Regions from separate parts of the Homo sapiens genome. Here region 1 is linked to region 2. Evidence: fine-mapped expression QTL. Tissue or cell type: whole blood. Region 2 holds a variant in brackets; the other region holds the start of a gene. All regions are shown on one strand. Distances are between the middles of the regions.

Region 1 (8,191 bases), 50 kb before region 2:
TGGAAGGTATTGGGGCAGACAAAATCCAAACTACTGCAGTCTGGTAGAGATGGTAAGAGGGTAGTTGAACTTACGGGTCTGGCGTCCATTAGCCAAGTTCAAGATGGGACCAGAAATTTGGGAATTGTCTATAACAGATGGTACTAGAGGCCTGGGAGTGAATGAGATTACCTAGTGGAGTAAGAAGAGAAGAGGGTCTATTGTACTGTAAAATGAATACACACTTTATGTGACAAACAGATTTGCTAATTCGTTCTTAGAAATTGCTGGCATATCAGGAGAATACATGTGTTTTTAAAATAAACACCTGTATAGCACTTACTTTGTGTCAGGAACTGTTCTAAGAACTTTGCAAGTCTCTATGCATGTAATCCTCATAATTCTATTAAGCTGATACTACAGTTATCCCCATTTTACAGATGAGGAATCTGAGGCAGAGATTGGGTTAAGAAACTTGTGCATAGTTATACAGGTAGTGAGATAGTCTGTGTTCAAACAAAGAAGTCTGGCATCAGAGTTCTCATGATTAAGACTTCATGTAGTTAAAGAGCTTCCTAGAGAACACAAAATTTTCATCTCTTTCCCCTCTCCTCAATTCCATAACACTTTCAGATTTTCACCTGCTGCTCTGGATTTGTGGTGGGGTACACATGTGGTTTGGCTTATCTGAGACTGTCTCTGAGGATGAAAATTGAGAAGGTAGAACCCCGGAGGTTATTCAAGTTAACTTGGGGGGTGTTCGCCATCAGGAGAAACAGATGCTGTTTAAGTCAGGAAGAAATGAGTGTTCGCTCCAAGGCCTGCTTCAGAAAGCCTCTTTGTTTTATGACTCTGGGTGCAAGCAACCCTTTTAATTTTGTGTCTTGGATTCCAGCCATAGGAGGCCTTCTTTAATGTGGCAGATGGCTGGAGACAGGCAAGCCAGGTTTCTAGACTCTACATTAAGCTGCCTTCCCTAGAGAGGAGTCTCCTAATTATGTTGCTCTGAAAAAGAGAAGAAAAGATACCTTAAAATGGACACATTAAACTTATACCACGTGTAAAGTAACCACTGTCTTAAGCATCTGCAAACATGTGGAGGTCAGGAAACCTTTGAGAATCTGATGAAAGCTATAGGCTTTTTCTGCAGAAAATTTGTATGTAGGTATATACACAAAAATGTGCACATTAATTCCCGGGGGTGGGGTCACAGATTCTCTGATATCCGTCCCTGAAGCTTCAAGGAGTCTGTGGCTGCCAGATTCCTGTGCTTTGAGTGGAGGCAGCTGTCATTCTTTTACTTTTTCATTTTTCAATACATTATGATCTCAACTTCTGAGCTATGAAAATAAAGGGTCTGTGGATTATAAGGGAAGCATTTCACACCAGAACACCAAAATTTTACTGGAAAAAACTCCTTTCAAATATTGGATAAAATTACTTTTGCATATTCTCTGGTCAGCATGGAAGGTTTGCTCATTCTGTTAAAGACTGACATGAAATCTCTTCTGACAAACATGATGAGCTTTTTCTTACTGGATTGTGGGGTGCGCCTCTGCACATCATTTCCTTGGAACCTCACTCATCTCAGAACTCCTCAGTTGAGTTCTGGCTTCTGCACTGTTTCCAATATTAAGAATTGGGTGCAGTGGGCAGTCTGCCAATTAAAGAATAACACAGAATTCTCAGAATTTGGAAAGGAAGCTTTATTGTTTCCAAGGACTCTGCTGGAGGAGTCATACAAACTTCGCCATTTCTTCCTCTGATGTCCATGTGCCATGATTGTCTGAGGAAGGGAGAAAAAGTCTTTGAAGTGGCTACCAGGATCCTTTGCAGATCTCTGGGATGTCATTCACTCATGCTTCTATGCTGGGTGACTCCTACCATCATCACATTCTTCCAATTCTCCCAGTAGGGTATGCAGTAGTCATGTAGGCAGAGCCTTCTGAGCTACAGCAAACTACAAAATTAAGATATTTATTAATGATTTTCAAACCAAAAACAATTTGCCTCAATTACTAGACATTTTAAAATTAAAAAATACAGAAATGTTTCTAAATTATTCCAGTTCTTCATCTTCCATATATTGTCTCACCTTTCCTGAAAGTTGCCTCCTTCTTAGACCTGAAAAACTCAAGGAGGGAGTAGGTCATGGGCTAAACATTTAGGCTAATTCTCTACATGAAATTGATAATATAAATGATTATTGAAAAAATTCAAAGGAAAGGATCATTTCTTCTGTAAACATCAACCCAACCCAAGAAAAACTATTTGGGATTTAAATCAGGGTTTCTCAACCACAGCACAACTGATATTTTGGGTTGACTAATTTTTGGTAGAAGGAGGCTGTTCTGTGCATTGTAGCATGTTCAGCAGTGTCTCTGACCTGCAACGCCTAGATGCTAGTAGCACCGCCCTCCTAGTTGTGACAACCGAGAACATCTTTAAACATTGCCAAATGTTTCCTGGGGGTGCAGTCACCCCTGGTTGAGAATTATAGGACTAAATTGTCCAGAAATAGGTTTCTCTACAAGTAAAGTAAAATTGAGTATTGGAGTTGCTTTTATCTGGTCTTCTTGATCAGGTGAATGGCTAAATGAAAAAAGCAGTTTGTCTATTTTGATGCCCCACTGACTATGTCTATCTGTTCAGATCATCCTGTTCTACATTTGTTCTTAGATCCCATTTGATTGCCAAAAACAGGGACTTCCTTACTTCATTCTTATGGTTCTGGGATTCCTGTTCATTTGCTGTTTTATAATGTTTTTGACTGTATAGATATTTAGTGATCCCTCTGATTTTCCATAGTCTTTGAGGTCTAGGTAATTTCTTAGACCTTCGGAAGGCTGCTGGTGTGGTACTAAAATCTCCATTCCTCTCTTCTATGTTATCTCTTCCAACTTTAGACCTAAACTGAGCTCAAATAGCAAGTTGGAGAGGCTGGAGTTGCTGGCTGATTTGATCAGTATGTGGACACATAACTTAGGAAGCAAAACTGTTGGCTATGAGATTACATATGTGATTATGAAAAGGAATCTTGTAATCACAAATTCTTCTGACGTATGTACAGTGACTGCAAAACAGCAAATAATTTGTTTTGGGAAGGATTTTATTGGCTGTTTGAAGTGAGGAGTATCTCTACTATACAAAATATTTAAACCAAATTGTTATGTCCTATAATGTTCAACAAAGCACTCTGCAAACATCAGTTCTGGAAAAAAAAAAAACGTATCCTCCAAGGCAGGATTATATGCACTTCTGGGAGTTGTAAACCCATGCAGGCTCCAGAAATATTTGCCTTCCAAGGGCTGGAAACTTCTGAATTAACAACAAATAATCAGTGAGTGTGACAAAGAGTTAAAGTACACAGACTTTACTTTCTCAAAGTTTATGATGTAGTAAAGAAGTTTAAGATGGAGACCTGAAATTGCAAACTGGTGGCCAGTAGGCTAAATCGGGACCATGGATTTGTTTTGTTTGGCTTGCATGTAGTTGGCCTCCAGAATGTCTAACAGAGTGAGAGGAAGGGAGCGGGGTGGGGGGCGGGCAGGAGACAGGCAAAGAGAGAGAAAAATAGAAAGAAGTTGCTAAACAGATATAATTGAGATTTTCACATAAAAATCTAAATTTCCAGCTTTGCTTGAAAAATCAGAATATCTGCCAACACTGGGTCCTTATTCCCACATTTCCCTATGGTAACAGTTGGCTGGAATGAAATAGCAGTGACCCCTTTGGTCTCTGGAACTAGACACTCACTCTCTGGTCTCTTCCCCCACTTCCCCTTCACTCCTTTACTAGCCCTCTGTCACCATTTCAGATGGCCACCCCTAATGCAGAGACTTCTGGACATTTATTTAGTTTCTTCTCCACAGAAATAAACTTCTAGAGCCTGGAGCAAAATAGTGGCTGCGCCATTTGTGTGTCAGATGAGATGACCCTGGCTCGGGCCATGGAGGTGGCAATTGAGGTGTGAGAAATGGTCAGATTTAGGATAAATTTTGAAGAAAGAGTCAGTAGAATTTCTGATGGATTGGATTAGGGTGTCAAAGAGCATTCCAAAATGACCCCGATTTTGATTTTTACTTATTTTAAAAAGAAAACCTATAATAGAACATTGGAGAGCCAGTATTGACCTTTTCAAATAAAAACAAAATTATTCAAAAGCTTTTTCTTACTAGTACTATTCAAATCGGGTACCCTATGTGGTACCAATATTATATTCTAGGAAATACTGACGGTTTTGGAAATTTGGAGGAAAAAGCATCGAGAAGAGCTCCAATTACTTAGAAAAGAGAGTCCAGGAGATGGGGTGGTGTATATAAGCCTATGGATGGTGTCTCTGCAACTCAGTGGCCCCGCCTGTCCAGGGGCTGGGTCCCCACGGGATCTCCCTCCCCACAAGGAGGTGGAGAGGCTATGTGTCTTGAACAACTGGGGTTGCGATCCAGTGTATGGGCAGTCCCACTCCTGGAACTCCAGGGTGGGCACTCGCTCCATTTCCACAGGCCCTCAAGGGTTCCAGGATTGCCCCGTGGGAGGGGTTTTAGTGCTGCATCTAGTAAGAAGCTGTAAGATGCTCAGAAACATGTTTTGAAGCTACTTTGCACAGAAAGAAGACTCTTCATTCAGATTTGTATTACAGATCAATAAAAGTAGCTAAGTCGTATCTGAAGATGTTTTTGTTTACACTTTGTATGTGACAGAAAACCTCCAGTTGTCTGTGTCAAGGACAATTACTTAATTTTATTACAATGTATACTGATTTGGTTAGTGGAAGCTTCTAGCGCCTACTGTGGTGGTGGTGGGAGCTATCTGATTCCCATTCCCAGGCCTGGCCATCGACGCGAAGGCCTCCAGCTGATCGGAAGTCGGCGTTGGCCGGCGCGGAGCCCGGCGCGGAGGCTTCTTTCAGCCGCCCGGGCAAGACACCCCTCCCTCGGTCCCGCAGCGGTCACTCCGCCTCTGGCGCGCATGCGCCGACCCCAGCGGGCGTCCTCCCGGGCTCCCTCTCCCTCCCTCCCTCATCCGGGTCCTGGGCGAGCGGGCGCCGTGCGCGTGTCCCGCGGCCGAGCTGCTAATAAAGTTGCAGCGAGGAGAAGCGCAGCGACGGCGTCGGGAGAGCGCGCCTAGCCGGCTCGCGAGTGAGTGAGGGTCCCCGGCGCGCGCGGGCGAGGGGAACTGGGGGCTGCAGGCTCTGCCCCGGCGGACTCGGGCCGAGGCGGGGGCGTTCGGCCGCGGACGGAGCGGAAACGACCCAGGGCCTGTCGGGCGGGAGGTAGGCCGAGTCCTGGCCTGCCGGGGTCCCGGCTGGCGGACACGGTGCGGCCCAGCGGCTGCGGAGGCCTCGCTGGCTGCCCGGGGCGTCCTGAGGCGGGGCCGGGGCTGGCCCTCGTCCCAGCCCCGCTGTTACCGCCCAGACTTTGGAGGGAGGCGTCTGGGACGCCCTGGAGGGGACCCCCTGACCCCGCGCTGTCCTGGGGAGCGGTTTGCTTTCCTAACTCATCGGATGTACCACCCTGGATACACACCCTTGATAGGACTGCGGTGCTCGGCCGGGCAGCCTGGGCTGCTGCACTGCGAAGCTGTCCAATGGCTTGATGAATCCGTGCCGCCGTCGCTTTGTGTTTCAAAGATAAGGATCCGCGCTTATCGGTGGGAATTACACTCTGGGCAGTTGTGACCGGCTACTGCAATCAGCTGGTAGTTAGACCTGGTTTCTGCCACTTGCCATGTCAGTTTTCACCACTGCAAGGATTTCTTCTACTTCATGTAAACTTCTCTGTGCTGCAAAGAGAATGCCAAAGCAGCGTCTTTTTGCCTTCACCATATTCAGCCGCTGGCCGGGTCCTATACTTCAATATCAGGGCTCAAATTAATATTCCAGTCTCTTCCCCTCCCCTTTTCCCCTCTCCTCCTTTCAGCTGCTGTTACTACGTGGAGTTTGGAGCCTAAGCTTTGAAAACTCCCATGTGGCGCGCCCGTCTTAAGTCTGAGCATGCTCAGTAGCCAAAACAGATTTTTGGTTGCAGAACTCGGGCGAGGATACTTGGGGTATTTGGACGTTTGCCGGCTTCCCAACAGAATGTTCCGGTTCTGGTGGTGATGGCATTGGAGAATGGGGCTTAGGCAAGCCTGTAGGTGAGGAATGGCTGAACACCCTGAGCCAGATGTTTATCTTGATTGTAAAGACAATGTTTCCTGACCAGCTGGAGCTTTGGGGGGGGGGGGGGGGTGTTGCGGGGGGAGGGAGCAATTTTGGTTGCTTGTGCATTTAAATGGGTGTGGCGCTAAGTATATCTTGTTTACCTTATCTTTCTGTGGAAAAGTTTTGATGTCTAGGTTTGTCACATCATGCCTGTTGCCTAGCACTACCAAAAGGGTTGTTATCTAGCAGCAAAGATTGAATAGGTGGAGGTCGTGGCTTGGCCTCACAGAAGTTGAGAGGAAAGGGTACTTGGGTTGCGTTTTTGAAAATTCGTATTTAAAACTAGAGTACTTGAATTTCCTTAGAGTACCTGAATTGCCCAGAGTGAATTAGTTTTTAATTTTAATTTGAAAGACAAAAGATTGAAAACCTTAGTCCCAGTAGGTTTAGTAACATTCCAAATAGCTTACAATTTCTGCTAGATGCCAATGCAGTAGTATCCATTGTGGGGAAAACAGTACCTACATTCAGTGTGACAGTTTCACATTTATGGATCCAAATATCATTATGAAATTAGTGTTCCAAATTTAAGGAGCTATTTGCAGATGTATAACAAATTATTTTAGTCTTTTATTCCTTTGGTAACTATTAATATTTTTTTCTCTACAGTGAAAATTGTAAAAATGCAAAACTTAGACAATTTAACAAAACTTAACCTTCATAAAGGTTGTAGATACTATGTTTAGATTTATAAAGTTTAATTTTGATGATTATTTGTGTGATTGTTCCTATACAGCTTCCTTTCCTTCCCTTTCCACATTGTTGCTCCCTCAGTCTTTTTTACATTACTGCTGTTAATTTACCCATGTATCTTTGTTAAAAATACCTTATTCATCATTTTGTGCTTCCATTCCTTTCAGATCATAGCTGAAATAAGCAAGAAAAGTTAGATTAACCTTCTCAACTGACTTTACTCTCAGGTTTTAAAGGCATCCACATGATATGGTCTAGTTAAAAGGAGGAAGAGAGCAGCAAACTGGAAAAAAAGAATAAAATATTTTCGTAGGTTCTGTACAGATCTGGTAGTATTATCTGCGTGTCTGGTTCACTGTGGTAGGCGCCACAGAAATGGGTAGATTGATAATGTGTTGGATTTCTTTCCCCTCTGGCAAAGTCAGCTATTAATTTCAGTGGGAGACAGTGGCAGAATGTTGTTACTAATGAGGTTTGAATCAGATTGTTGTTTACTGTTGGTTATGTAACATGTTGCTGGGAGTATTATTAAAAGTTGCATTCTGCAGCAAAGTAGAGGCAAGTAAATTCTGCTTACCCTCTTCACTGGGTTTTAATTCTTGGCTGAACCTGAAGGCACATTAGATTACAACCATAATTATACCTGGGCAGCCTGTCTGTTTCCTGTTTTCATCATGAACCCAAACATTATGATTTGCAGTGATGATCTTTTTTGTCCTTTGCATTGAACGGAGGCAGTGTGTTTTCTCCCTCTACTGAAAACAGATTTGTAACTTGGTCAAATTAAAGATTTTAGTGTTTTGAAAACTAGGCAGTAAAATACCAGTTTTTCATTTCTTAATACAGTTACTTAAGTTGAAATACCATCTAAAAAAATCTATTTCATATATATTCTTTGTCTTTATGTAAATTTTAATATTACTAGTACTTTGTAGAGTTAAAGAAACTCTTTTTGTTTATGACATATCAGTGTTTATTATTACCAGATGTATATGTTGGTCTAGGCAATGAGCCACACATCTGGGTGAATTTCAGAGCTGACTTGAGTACGCTTGAGGATATAGGTGTCTATTCTCTTGGTTTATCAGTCTTCCCTGTTTTTACTTCTAGACGATCTATATTCCTTGTATCTGTCTGTCTGTCTCTCTGTCTCTCTGTACACTAACCACAAAGAAGGCAAATAGTTTATTTCTTCAAATGTTACAAGCAGCTTATAGCCTATGATTTGCCCGTCTTCTCATAGGGTCAAAGACATTGAGTAAGATTCCCTTTTATAAGGGATACTAGTAGCCTGAGGAATGATTCTTGTCTCCA
Region 2 (8,191 bases):
ATGCTTTTACTTTATTGCCCTAACAATTTTTTATTAAATTTATTTGAAAATGCATCACATGATGAAAAATTATAGTAGCTTATAAGAGGGCATATACAGTGAAGAGTAAGTTTTCCCTCCTACTCTCGATCTTCCAGAAGCTGTACTTTTACCAGTTTCTTTGTCCCACCAACTTAAAAAAAAAAAGTACAATTCATTGTTTTGCAAAAGTGTATGGTAGGGGCTTAAAAGAAACTATAAAGTTTTATTTGAATGAACACTATGCACTGCTGTAACTGGTAGTGTTCAGTAAAAGCAAAATGATAGTTTTCTAGATGACATAAAATTTACATTTAATACAGATAAGTGTTCTTCAGTGTAATGTGACTTCATGCTATATATCTTTTGTAAGACATTTCCTTTTTTAAAAAAATTTTTGCAAATAACTGATCTCAAGTATATGTCATTTACTCAAAATCTGTCATAAGCATTACTTTATAGCTAGTGACAGTGCATGCACAGCCTTGTTCAACTATGTTTGCTGCTTTTGGACAATGTTGCAAGAACTCTATTTTTGACATGCATTAATCTTTTATTTTGCACTTTTATGGGTGACAGTTTTTAGCATAACCTTTGATAAAATACACTCAAGTGACTTGGACTTAGATGCTTATCCTTACGTCCTTGGTACCTTTTTTGTATTAACAAACACTGCAATTTATAGATTACATTTGTAGGAAGTTATGCTTTTTTCTGGTTTTTGTTTTACTTTCAACCTAGGTTATAAGACTGTTATTCTATAGCTCCAACTTAAGGTGCCTTTTTAATTCCCTACAGTTTTATGGGTGTTATCAGTGCTGGAGAATCATGTAGTTAATCCCATTGCTCTTACAAGTGTCAGCTTACTTGTATCAGCCTCCCTACGCAAGGACCTATGCACTGGAGCCGTAGGAGGCTCTTCAGTTGGGCCCCAAGGATAAGGCTACTGATTTGATACTAAATGAATCAGCAGTGGATGTAGGGATAGCTGATTTTAAAACACTCGGCTGGGCACAGTGGCTCACACCTGTAATCCCAGCACTTTGGGAGGCTGAGGCAGGCAGATCATGATGTCAGGAGTTTGAGACCAGCCTGGCCAATATGGTGAAACCCTGTCTCTACAAAAAATACAAAAATTAGCTGGGCATGGTGGTGCGTGCCTGAAGTCCCAGCTACTCGGGAAGCTGAGGCAGAAGAATCACTTGAACCTGGGAGGCGGAGGTTGTGGTGAGCCGAGATCGCACCACTGCACTCCAGCCTGGGCGACAGAGCGAGACTCTGCCTCAAAAAACAAAACAAAACAAAACACTCACCCATCAACGAATATAGACTCTTCTCTCATTTATCGATGATCCTCTTTTTCCATTTTTTAAGTACTTATGTGGAAGCTAGTCTCCCAAAACACAATCTTTAGAGAGAAAAGACATGAACGAACTCCAAAATATCCATTTAATCAATCATGTTTTTGGCTTTGGATAAAGAACTTTGAACCAGTTTTTTTCTCAGGAGCTGTCAAATGGACACTTAATTATGACATGAGAATGAAGAAATTATTTTGGAAAAAAAAAATGACCTAATTTACCTATCAGTGAAAGCTTTATTTTCTGGTGCCTTTTGAAAGTATATGGAGTCATATCATTCTTCTGTTTAAAATGTTAGTTTGGTTTGACTTTCCACTTTGTCCTTTCTGCTCTTGTGAAGAAAAAAAAAAGCATTTTCGAGGAAAGAATTATGCAATTTCTTTTGTTTTCTGTGTCATTATTTATTGCTTTTTCAATGTGCAGCCAGTGGATGGTTTTAGTTCTTTCAGATGAACTGCCATTTGTGTTTCAGCTCACAGTTCTTTGCTGGGTAAAAGAAATACTTTCTGACAGTCACCTGAGCCTTAAATGTAAGTATTACATGACATGCATTCTGTTTCTTCCAGAGTTCTGTCTGCCACACGAAAGAGAATATTTGCTTACTTGATAGAACTTTGGCATTTTCATCATTCTTTTACTTAACCAGGCTTATGGCATGATCTCTGGAACAAATTTGTAGGAAAAAATTACTCCAATTGAATGACTGATGTATGTAATCAACTTCATTGGGCTGCAGTAAACTAGTGGAAATTAGAGAGTTGTTTTATTGGTGTTTTCTACTGTGAGTTAATTAAAAATTGTTTTTATTTGGGGTCATTATGTCACAGTCTTGAGTTAACAAGATCTTACGTGATTGGCCTTTTCTTTGTTTTCTCTTAGGAGTTGTGTCTCATGAATGACAGTACTAAAGCTATTAACAACTAAGAGTTTGACAGAGAACTATAAGCCTGTTGTATCTCCTAAAAGTTGTCAACTCCCCACCCTTGGACTTTAAATGAAAATTTTATTCAGTCCAGCTATTCTTACAGTCCCTAAGGATTTTCATATATCTATGTATAGGAGATAAAATTTGCTAGTAAGATTTTTAAAAACTGGCTAGTGAAAGGAAAGTACCTCTGAAAGAAACCATTTTAGCAAATTATGGTTATATGTTTTAATTTAATCTACAGAATGTTTTATAGTAAAATTCTAGCACCACTAGAATAATCACATAGCATGTACAATATATTTATGCTGGCTGAAAAGACAGAATCTGGGAATAATAAAATTGCAACCAGTTTGGTAATGCAAACAGCAGAATAGAATGAAATCTCAGTAATGAATTAAAGCAACAAAAAGATATTGATTGGCAAAAAGCAAGATATAAGAGATTCATTTGCTTAACATTTCTACATAATATTTATGGTCTGGTCAGTATTGGTCTGGTCAGTATTGCCTGGCTGACGTGAAATGTAAACTAGTAGGCGTGTTATTGATCTGCTAAAACTAACCCTCTTTTTAAGAGGAGATTTAAGGAAGACGTCAATCAAAATGTCAAATATGTGTGTCAGAATATAAATAATTTTTCACATTGTATTGTTGCTATATAAAAAAAATAATAGAATTGGTTGGGTTTCTGAGGTGAAATCCAGAGTAAGAGTACTAGACAGTTCAACAAGCCACATCTAATGGCACAGATAGAGGATGTAGCTATTTTATACCTTTCATAACATTTGAGAGTAAGATATCCTTCAGGATGTGAAGTGATTATTAAGTACTCATACCTGAAATCTGTTGTCAAGATTAGAACTGGGGTTCATGTTAAAAACCTTCCATATTACCTGAGGGTACCTGTGGGGAACAGTTCCTTCCCCTGTGTGGTAGTATTTTGTTGGAAGAGAATGTTTATACAAAAAATGAAATTCTTCCAACAGCAGAGAAACTCTAAAAAGTTTGATAGTACCTATCAAAGTGCTGTACTTCTGTGATAGAGAACATCTGATGTACCAATTTAGATCTATTTCTTTATACTTTTTCTAATCAATTGCTTAATAGTACTTTGGATGATTATCACCTTTGCCACTTAAAATATATAAATATCCTTTTTACTTCATGAGGAAGGA[A/G]GAATTTTTTGATAATTACTGAGTTCAGCCTTTTGTGATGACTTATATTTTGGACTTACATTTTAACTTTAAAGAATGTCAGATCCCTTCTTTGTCTTACTAGTTAAATCCTCACCTAATCTCTTGGGTATGAATATAAATGTGTGTCATCGTTATATTGTTCAGCTAGATGAGCAAGTATCTTAGGGTAGTAGGTAGCCTGGTGGTTTTAGAAGTGTTTGGTGATTTTTATGGAGAGAGTTTTCCTAAGTGGTGGTTTATAGGTGGTATCAGATATTATTAGGGCAGCTTTTTGGGGAGTAATCTCAGGTCTCCCAGAGCAGCAGCATTTTTCTCATTGATATAAGTAAGATTCTTAGGAGCTTTTCTTATCACACAAGATGCCTGAATCGAATGTGAGAATTGAAGGCATTTCTTCTGCATAAACAAAGAATTCTACCTGCTGGACAGAAACCTGGAAAGTTCTTTGGAATTCGCTGAATTACAGTTTAGTATGTCCTGATTACAGAGTGACAATATTTATCAAGCCTTTGTTATATTGGATTATCTTCTCTCTTAAAATACAACTGTATTATAATTGAAATGACAGCCCAAAATTGGATGGTTTACCAAAACCAATGAAAGGGATTTCACACATCAATTTTTATTTCTGTTTTGAAGAGCACATGCTATATAATAATTGCTAGTAGCAACTGCAGTAAAACAGGTGATAAGTTATTTTCTCTGAAAAGATCCAGTCCTAGAGCAGGATTCTTCGATCATTCATGGCAGAGTGAAAAAGGTTTGTATGGTTCTTGTCCAAATAACTCAGTTCTTAAAATTCTTAAAATGATCGTAAACCATTATCCTTTAAAGGTTTATTTGAAGATGCTGTTAAAGTACAGAATTTTGTGTACAGGTAGATTTTTCCGTCCCTCATTAATAGTGCCTTCTTAATTAATACAGACTGGTGTTAGCTATAACAAAACTCCAGTAAGGCCAAAGAATCCCAAGTTCTTTGTGGAAAAAAAAAAAAAATCTTTTAGGGTCAGATTTTCCCTTCTAATATCATTGAAGATGATGTTGCATTGATTTATTCATAAAGTATTTTAACTATAGGAACTCTAGAAGATAATGGTTAGGCAAGTGATTTTTTTTTTAAATATGGTTGGCGTAAGTTGTATTTTGAAATTCACTTATTTTAAAATCGAAGAGGATTGTAATCATGGAAATAGAATGTTTGTATCTACCTGCCCACATTTTCTTAAAAAGATATTTCATATACAGATAATGAAGACCAAGCTAGTGGCTGCACTGTAGGTCTGCTGCTTATTTGTATTTGTTGTGCTTCTGTTTATGTTGTAGAAGCTGAAATTCTAGCAACATGCTTCAATTCTGTTATTTTGATACTTATGAAAATGTATTAGGTTTTACTATATTGTGCTTTTGAAAGCCATAACTCTTAAGAACTTTGTTTTTGCATATTGTTTGCTAATTCTTTACTTTAATAAACCTCAAAACCTGCTTAATGTGTCTTTTTTTGTTTTGGCTCTGGAGTTGGCCTGCCTGCGTTTGAGTCATGGGCCTCATAGCTTAGACAAGTTGCTTAACCACTCTATGCCTCACTTTCCTGACCTGTAAAGGAAAAGTCTACTTCATAGGAAGGATTTGAGGGAAGATTAATTGAAGTGTAATACAAATACAGTATTTAGAACAGTACTTAGAACATAAGAACTCAAATATTAAAATTGTTACTATCTTTTACATTTCCACTAGTTCTTTGATTCAGAATAATTACTTCTTATGTTGCTTGACCTCGGTGTATCAACCTTTGATGATCCACTTTGTGAATTTACAATTTTTTATTTCCTTTTGTCTTCTTTTTTGAAAAAATTTTAAATCACAGACTGACTTTGCATCATTGTCACTGTGTTGCACACTTTTACCAACCTCTGAATTACATATACAAGACATGCAAACTCATTCTAATTAGAAAGGAATGGTGAGCGAGGCACAGTGGCTCAGGCCTGTAATCCCAGCTTTTTGGGAGGCTGAGGCAGGTGGATCACCTAAGGTCAGGAATTCAAGAGAAGCCTGGCCAACATGGTGAAACCCCGTCTCTACTAAAAATCCAAAAATTAGCCGGGTGTGGTGGCGCGTGCCTGTAATCCCAGCTACTTGGGAGGCTGAAGACAGGAGAATCGCTCGAACCCAGGAGGTGGAGGTTGCACTGAGCCAAGATCATGCCATTGTACTGCAGCCTGGGCAACAAGCGATACTGCGTCTCAAAAAAAAAAAAAAAAAAAAAAAAGGAATGGTGAAAAATCATGTGCCCTTGCCAGAAATGTAGAAAAACCCAAACTACATATTAACCCTAAAGGATAAAGATAAAAGCACTTGTTCTTTTTTTTTTTTTTTTTTTTTTTAATAGATAAAAAAGACTCTATTCAAGCTTGTCCAGCCTGCACACATGGGCTGCATGTGGTCCAGGACAGCTTTGAATACGGCCCAACACAAATTGGTAAATTTTCTTAAAGCATTATGAGATTGTTTTGCGAGTTTTTTTTCTTTTTTTTAGCTCATCAGCTATCGTTAGTGTTAGTGTGTTTTATGTGTGGCCCAAGATAATTATACTTCACTGTGGCCTAGGGAAGCCAAAAGATTGGACATTCCTACCAATTTCTGAGAATCAGTTCCTTCCTATGTCTTTTTACTTAAAAGGCATTTTGTAAGGTATTTTGTAGCAACATCACTGGTTGTTTTAGAAGTGTATTTTTTAAAAAAGCACACTTGTCCTAGCGGAAGAAGGTTCAGTGAGCACTAAGAGGATGTTGGCTTCTCTTGGGTTTAAGATAATTAGTTTTCAGGTTGCTGTAGCCAAAACAGTTCAGGTGATGAGGGGTTGGGACAGTGGCTAATACTATTTTGTATTACAGCAGTTTTGATGCAGCTATCGTTTTATAAACATTTTTAAGATTGTCAGTAGACTGCAGCAATGCTTATAAGGAAGATTTATTTAGAGCTCTGTAGTATTTATGATTGAAAGAAGGAAGCATTTTTAAAACACCCTTCCCATTTAACATTTTAAATATTACTGATTTTTGTCATTGAGTTTGTAAGTCTATCATAAGCTTTGCAAAAACAAAACTTGTTCTTTCTATCTAAATCAGTTTTTCTGTTTAAAAAAAGGGTAATGGGGCTATAGGGAAAATTCAAAGAAGAGCTATGGGCAGCTTGCTTAACCATCTCCATGTTAACGTATGTTGGATGGGAGGTGGGAAGAGGGATTTAGACTGGTGGTGAAGACTTATCCATATTATATCAAATGGGTGTGTGTATAATTCCTAGTGAGAGATTTTCTGAGGCAGTTTATTGATGTTTAGAGATGGATTTTGAAAAGATCCTTATACTTTGTCTTAATCAGTTACCCCTTCCCATCTAATAAACCTCCTTCATTATTTCATTTTAAATAATACTTTCATTTGAGATAAATGCTGAGAATTTTAACAGAAAAGTTAAAACTGAAACCCCCAAACCAGTAGCAAAGGTTTATGAGTGTGCCCTTCTAACCTGTTCTGGTAGTCACTGTACATTGATCCTTGGCTTTCTTTGACAGATACTTTGCTGATTATAGATGGAGCTCTAGCTCTTTTTGAAAGGGTTCTCAGAGAAATTGGTTTGGTTCTAAAGTGTTTCTTGAGTTCTTTGTACCTAAGAAAGCCTTTCATTCTGCATAGCGTTTATCACCATCCAACATATATATTTCTTTACCCTGTTTATTGACTGTCTTACCTCATGGGAATGTAAGATCTGTGAGGACAGACCTGTGTTGCCACTGCTAGAACAGTTCTTGATATGTTATAAGTAAGCATACCAATATTTGTTGAATGAATGAGAGTACTGAAGCAAGAAGTGAATTTTTTAAGTATTAGAATTTACCTTTTAAATAATGTAATATTTACTTCTTAGTTGAATTGCTTCTAGCTCAATGTTTTATTAGCTCTCTTTATGCCTGAGAAGTGGTTTGATGTGGGGTGGGGTATTGTGGGAGCTGGCTAAAGTATAATTGAGAAGAAGGGGAAATTCAGCTAAGAAAGCACTCATATCCTTTCTCTTTGAACTTTTGGACTTTTGCTCCAAAGTTATCAAATTCTTGGAATTGTTGCTTGTAGAACCTGCAAAATTAATAGTCAAGTTAGAGCTTTAACCTGTTAACATTTAATATTTTCCCAAAGAAAGTAGGAAGGGCATAGTTTCCTTGATACGCTTGACAAGAGAAAATAACCCCAAAAAGTGTACTTTTAATTACACAGCTTACAGAAGCTGGGGTGTTACAAATTTTGTAGTGTGATTTTAGTGCCCTGGTTTAGACCCCATAATATCCTTCCCTAACTGTTGTACATAAGGGGCAAGCCTTTCATTGCACTCAGGTGGGAGTGGGAGCAAGGAATACCTTTGAGAGAGAGAACGTATGATAAAACAAATACATGAACCATATTTGTGCTTCAGAATAAAAGATTAATTTTGCTGAAGAGTGTGTGTGGGTGATGTAGGGGGAGAAGTTCAGGAAGAAGAAACAACAGGGTCTAGAGGGTTTTTTAGATTTTGTCCACTTTATAGTTTTGCCAACATTAGTTCAGAAGTGTAATTAACAGTAAACTTTCCCTAATTGCCTTTTGTTTACATAAAATTTTGTGAAATGTGGTTTTCATTAACTTAGAATTGTTTAGA

The links. PIP is the estimated chance that this variant, and not a neighbour inherited with it, causes the effect.
Region 1: SMAD5 starts here. The variant in region 2 is fine-mapped to the expression of SMAD5 in whole blood (INTERVAL, PIP above 0.99).

What each region holds. Positions count from the first base shown.
Region 1 is chr5:136,127,843-136,136,033 of GRCh38, forward strand. SMAD5 (SMAD family member 5) reads left to right here and starts at 5,003. Exons shown (of 8, transcript NM_005903.7): 1 at 5,003-5,120. SMAD5-AS1 (SMAD5 antisense RNA 1) reads right to left here and starts at 7,048. Exons shown (of 2, transcript NR_026763.1): 1 at 5,508-7,048; 2 at 1,671-1,939. RefSeq lists enhancers at 4,267-4,326, 4,357-4,406 and a silencer at 4,717-5,356.
Region 2 is chr5:136,177,750-136,185,940 of GRCh38, forward strand. It overlaps SMAD5 (SMAD family member 5), which reads left to right. Exons shown (of 8, transcript NM_005903.7): 8 at 1-4,984. Among named protein-coding and RNA genes, the nearest start is that of SMIM32, 11 kb to the right of the region's middle. The variant A/G (reference allele first, on the strand shown) is at 3,482.